2 separate regions of the Homo sapiens genome follow, and region 1 is linked to region 2. Evidence: fine-mapped expression QTL. A gene starts in region 2. The other region holds a variant in brackets. All regions are shown on one strand. Distances are between the middles of the regions. Region 1 has its middle 80 kb from the start of CA3-AS1. Region 2 holds the start of CA3-AS1 (CA3 antisense RNA 1).

Evidence for each region. PIP is the estimated chance that this variant, and not a neighbour inherited with it, causes the effect.
Region 1: its variant is fine-mapped to the expression of CA3-AS1 in whole blood (TOPMed, PIP 0.95).

What each region holds. Positions count from the first base shown.
Region 1 is chr8:85,543,456-85,546,371 of GRCh38, reverse strand. No RefSeq gene overlaps it. Among named protein-coding and RNA genes, the nearest start is that of CA3-AS1, 80 kb to the right of the region's middle. The variant G/A (reference allele first, on the strand shown) is at 1,395.
Region 2 is chr8:85,463,389-85,466,304 of GRCh38, reverse strand. CA3-AS1 (CA3 antisense RNA 1) reads left to right here and starts at 1,390. Exons shown (of 3, transcript NR_121630.1): 1 at 1,390-1,723. It overlaps CA2 (carbonic anhydrase 2), which reads right to left and starts at 2,298. Exons shown (of 7, transcript NM_000067.3): 1 at 2,190-2,298; 2 at 836-1,033. The coding sequence starts at 2,223. RefSeq lists an enhancer at 1,690-2,189 and silencers at 1,833-2,302, 2,413-2,732, 2,803-2,916.

The DNA of each region.
Region 1 (2,916 bases), 80 kb before region 2:
TACCCACTAGATGTTGGTAGCACCACCCCACCCCTTATCCTGGTCATTCATTCCTCAAGTTGGTGCTCTCCAGATATCCCGATTCTGACCTTCTCATTACAGAAGCGAATGCAGAGTGTTCCCTACTTGAAGTCTTTACTTCTGTGTATGTTGGCAAGCAAAGAAAACAGGGCAAAACAAATGTGCCCTTTATCTTTAGTGGTTAATTTATGACAACCAAAAATGTTGCCAGACATTGCCAAAAGTCTTCTGAGGGGGAGGGGGCAAAATTACTCCTGCTTGGGAGTAAAAACCACAGCTCTAGAGAACTTATTAAATTTGTAATTATATGTTTATTTGTGTAATTTTAAGTAATTACTGTCTCTTCCACTAGACCGTAAATTCCAGAAGGCTAGGATCATCTCCATTCTAAAACATGCCTAACTTATCTTCCTGGCACATAGTAGCTACATATTGAATATATATTGACTTAGTTAATGAATAAATGATATGGTCCATTTTATGAGCAATTACAATAATTCTGAAAGATCCAGGTTAGTGTCTACATCACATTTCATGAGAAAAATGACTATTCTTGTTATGCAACATAAATTATATTTACAAACTTTAACAATATATAAGGGACATGACATTTGAGACATATGAGTAACTTTTTTCTTATATTATTATTTGAAAAACTTACAAGTAGAAGAGTTAAAATTTTTTCAAAAATTGATTTGAATTTTAATTTATGTTGTATTTCTCCACAAATTATATCTGAATGTTTTTGAGTATGTAAGTACATTTATTAATGCTGATGGCAGAATAATTGTTTAGTTCTCTTAAAACATTTTATTAACCGGGTGTGGTGGCTCACACCTGTAATCCCAACACTCTGGGAGGCTGAGGTGGGCAAATCACTTGAGGTCAGGAGTTCAAGACCAGCCTGGTCAATATGGTGAAACCCCGTCTCTACTAAAAATACAAAAATTAGCTTGGCATGTGGCATGTGCCTGTAGTCCCAGCTACTCACGGAGGCTGAGGCAGGAGAATCTCTTGAACCCAGGAGGCGGAGGTTGCAGTGAGCCGACATTGTGCCACTGCACTCCAGTGTGAGAAACAGAGCAAGACTCTGTCTCCAAAAAAAAAAAAAAAAAAGCTAAATTTATTATAATTTTAAAAATTTTAATTACAAAATTAATATTCACACACTCTAAAAAAATAATTTAAAATAATTTAAACTATACAGATAAAGTAAATCCCTTGACTGTTTCACAAACTAGTGTTGTCCTCATAGTTGAAAACCGTAGTTTTGTTTTTTAATAAGTATTAAGATATTAAGGTTTCTTCCCCATACACACATTTATTTCCTGGCCCTTGACTCCAGTTAGCGGCATTCATCACCTTGGAGGAGA[G/A]CTAGCACACTCAAATGAACCAAACAGCAAGTCTAGTTCTTACGTTTCTAAGCAAACTTTTAAAAATCATGACAAAAACCATAGTCTTGAAAACCTTTTTTAAAATTTTTGATTACAAATATGGGGTTTTCGGTTTTGTTTTGAGTTTTAAGACTCAGAAGTAAAATTTGGGCAGAGCTGAGTAAAAGGGAAAAAAGCCACAAACAATAGCTTGAAAAGAGAATAGCTGAAGATTCAGAACAACTACCCCACTTCCATCCCTTCCCCCACCAGCATAGTAGATAATACCAGTCCTGGGAATGGAGATAGAGCAACAGTCAGACGTCCATGTAGGTCTTGAGGAAGAGAAAACTTTGACCAGGTGCTACAAAATTGATGGAAGGAGGGCTGTTGCAATGATCTATTACTGCATAACAAATTACCATAAAATTTTAATGGTTCAAAACAAAAGTAATTATTTTATTACCTCTCACAGTTTCTGTTAATCAAGAATTCAAGAAGGGCTGGGCTGGGTGGTTCTGGCTCTGAGAAGCCTATATATTCAGTGACCATTCCTGAGAATGGTATGATACCCCTGTCTGCGTGGGCAGACACCAAGTGGAGACCATTCCCGAACGTGATGGCCCTTCAGCACCTGTGAATATACATGACAGCTAAGGTAAGAGAAAGTCCTGAATTGATATCTGGAAGTGACCAGATTAAGTTTTCTACCATCAGTCCACATTGGAGCTCAACATATAATCTCTATGTTGATTTACAGAAAAATAAAGAATGCTATTAATTTCATTTTCGTATGATACCCACTATATTACTATTCCCTCTTGGGTGAACATTTAGATTGCTTCCAATTTTTTACCATAGAAATTATGCTGCAATGACAACTTGTACATGTTTATATGTGTACATGTCTATTTCTCTAGAAAAGATAAAATTTAAATAAAAATTCAACAGATTCTTTGTGCTTTTCCACAAAGAATTATCCTGCCCAACCGTTCATTGTATTACTAGAATATGAGCTACTTGAGGACAGGGATTTTTGTGTGTTCTGTGAATATTACTTGTACAATAAACTTACGTTGAACACAGTTATCCTTTATGTATCAAATAACTCTATTCTTTCTACTCAATATGTTTATCTTTGGAATAATCTCATGAGCCCTTTTTCTCAGAGAGCTCCATGTTTCCTGAATAAAACTAATGCCACAAGCAGTCTTACAAACCAGCTAAGGAAGATTGAGTAGGAATTTGAGTAGGAAGCTGGCTAGGGGACCCTTGCTCAAGAATATCAACCCTGTCATCTTTGAAGCTGTAATTTTTACAGCATAGTTGTTAAGGGTCTTGAGGAGGTTTGATCCTCTACTAAATGCAAGTATTCTCAGTAGATAATAAATCTTCTGCCCCCACCCATCACCACCAATAAATTTTACCATAATTATCAGCTGGTAATTTAAACATGGCTTGACAGAAACCAAGAGGACCAATTTTAATTGAGATTTTTTAAAAATAAGGAGACCAAAAAGAA
Region 2 (2,916 bases):
GACCTTCAGAGGAAAGCACTCAGGAAAATAGGGCACTGGCAATTAAATTAACTGCTTAGCAAAGAAGGCAGCTACTATGTGTGAATGGGATTGTTCTCTTGTTTCAAAAGAGAGAGAGATAAAAAAAAAAAAGCAGGATTTTTTTTCTTCTTTCTCTTTCTTTTTTTTTTTTTTTTTACAGTGAGCATCCTGTAAACAGCTCTATTACCAATAAATACGGTAATTGGTTTTGTCAGTAATGGGCCAGGTATGTTCACCAACTCTAAAACATCTTCGTTTGTGAAATGAATTTCTGAGTAGATATCAAAACATGCTGCCATCTTTATCACACTAGCCCAATACTAAGAAATACTCATAAGTAAAACATTTTCCCAGAATTTCAGTATTTTAAATTGGCACGTTTTTGTTACTCTTCTCGCTGCTAACTTGAAGATAAGGCTCACTAAGATATACTTTTTAATGGATATGCATCAGCTCTGCAAGACAAAATATTTTACAATCTTAAAAGTTCAATTGGTGCAAATCTCATCGTGACTGATCTTTATTGCGAGGGGACTTTGCACCTTTTGTGATTTTTCACAGGCATATCGCAGTTATTCAATGGCCTTCATAGAAGCCAAGGGTTTTACAGGGAAGAAACGGCCCCGGGACACTTCAAACTAATTAGCCTACTTCTCAGAATCTGAGACCTAATGAAAATGATCAGGGTGGCATCCTTGAGTCCTGAGACAAACTGTATTATTAAGAGGGTTCCTGCCACTGTTCCTGGCTCCTTCCATTAAGCTCGGAAAACAGCTACTGGCTAAAAGACACAAGTTATTTTCTAAACACTGACCTGCTTTGTCCTGAGAGTCATCAAACTCCACGTTGAAAGCATGACCATTGTTGAGGATCCTCAGGGAAGTTGCTTGATCATAGGAAACAGACAGGGGCTTCAGGGAAGGGTCATACTTGGCTGTATGAGTGTCGATGTCAACAGGGGACTGGCGCTCTCCCTTGGCAATGGGGAAGTCCTTATGCCAGTGCTCAGGTCCTGGGGGAAAGAAGACATGTGAATCCCCCATTGTGGGGAAAGGTACACCCAGACCCCTAGAGAAGAGCAATCATTCCGGAGCCAATCTGCTCAGTTCCAATTTTAGAAGCATCACTTAACAATGGGCTAAATTTTGGGAAAACACGTAATCTGTGCCTCAGTTTCCACATTTGTAATATGGGATAATTAGAAATCTACCTCATAGATGTCGCTGTAAGAATTAGAATCGATATATGTAAAGCTCTTAGATCACTGAGTGCTATATAAATATTAGCTATTTTAAGGTCGTTTTACTGAAATTCAGCAACTGAAATCGGGCAGACACTAATGTCAGGGCTTGTGGTTGCGATTTTGGGATATGCAAGCTCACTTAAGACATTCAAGGAGGTCTGGATCCTTTCCTCACTGCCCAGGCCCGGGCCCACCCCACCTTTAACCGTCAGGGTTCCCCACTACCTGGGAAGCCCCACACCCTCCAAAGATGCGCTAGGTGCGCCAGACGCATGCTCCTCTGCTCCGCTGGCTCCGAAGAACCAGATCTGAGGCCAAGATAAAACCCGATTCCTGATGTCCGACCCCCTAACATTAGAAGTCGAGAGATGAAGGGAAAACTCGGAAATCAGAGCCATGGATTCAAACCAGCACTGGAAAATGCCCCGGGACAGTTCGTGCTGAGCGCCTTAGCCACAGGTGGTGCTGAAGCTGGAGGGGTGGGGTGGGGGTGGAAGGTGGGGGAGGGGGGAGGGGAGTCTCTTAATTTCTCTGCGATCAACAACTAGAATTTTCCGTTACAACCCTTTCCCGCCTCCTCCTAGGTCCGGTTAAAATGATCCCCAGGTCGGGACCCGGGAGGGACTGTCCTCGGGTCCCGCGGCCAGGGCTGCGCCTCCCCTCCCTCGGGCCCTACGCGCCTCCGGCGGACGCGGGGATTCCTCCACAGTGGCCTCGCAGCTGGGGCAAGGGGGACATCCCCGGCGCCGCGGAGCCGCGAGCGGAGCGAGCGCCCGGGGCGCACCTGAGCCTCCAGCACTCCCCGCGGCCGCGGTAAACAGCATGTGCGGGCGCTGCGGGCCCCGGGCCGGCATCCGGGCTCGGGGATCGGGGATCGGGGATCGGGGATCGGGGCGCCCCCGCGCTGGCCGTCGCCGGCACTCACCGTTGTGTTTGCCGTACCCCCAGTGATGGGACATGGTCGCGCTGGCGGTCGGGGCAGGGCAGGAATCGGCACCGATCTGGCGGCGGCGGCTTGGGCGCCTGCACTGTGTGTCCGCGGGTCGCGCCGGCACCAGCTTTTATAGGCTCCCGCCAACTTCGTGCTCGGGGGCGGCCCGGGGGAGGGGGCTCGGGTGGACCTAGGCGACAAGGGGAGGTGGTGACGGGCGGAGGTGAACTCCCCGCGCTCGGGGCGGGGCGGGCCGGGCGGGCGAGTCTCCGGGGGCGGGGAAAACGCCCTCTCGGCTGGCGCCCGGCGGGGCTCCGGGGCTCCGGGGCTCCGGGGCTCCTCTCCCGCCGCCCGGCTCCCCTCGGCCCACGGCAGGGCCCCGGTGTCCTGGGCTGGCAGCGAAGCTCGGAGCTCTGGGCGTGCGGCGGCTGCGGTGGCTCCTGGGCTCCTCCGTCCAACCCGGGCCGCGGAGCCTCTACGCGCACCCCATCCCCCTCCCGGCTGCGGAGTCTGGCGGCGGCGGGGACTGCTCGGGACCCGGACCCCCGGCGCCTTTCGTCCCCTGTCCCCATTGTGACCTGTCTCTTGGCCCCGGAGCCCTCCCGCCCCACCCGCGCCGGGGTCTCCAGCGCGAAGGGCTCAGTCTCTGGTGTCCCCGGCCTGGGGCTGGCAAGCTGGGTTAGGAGCTATGACCTTGGGGCAAATAGGGATACGATCCTAG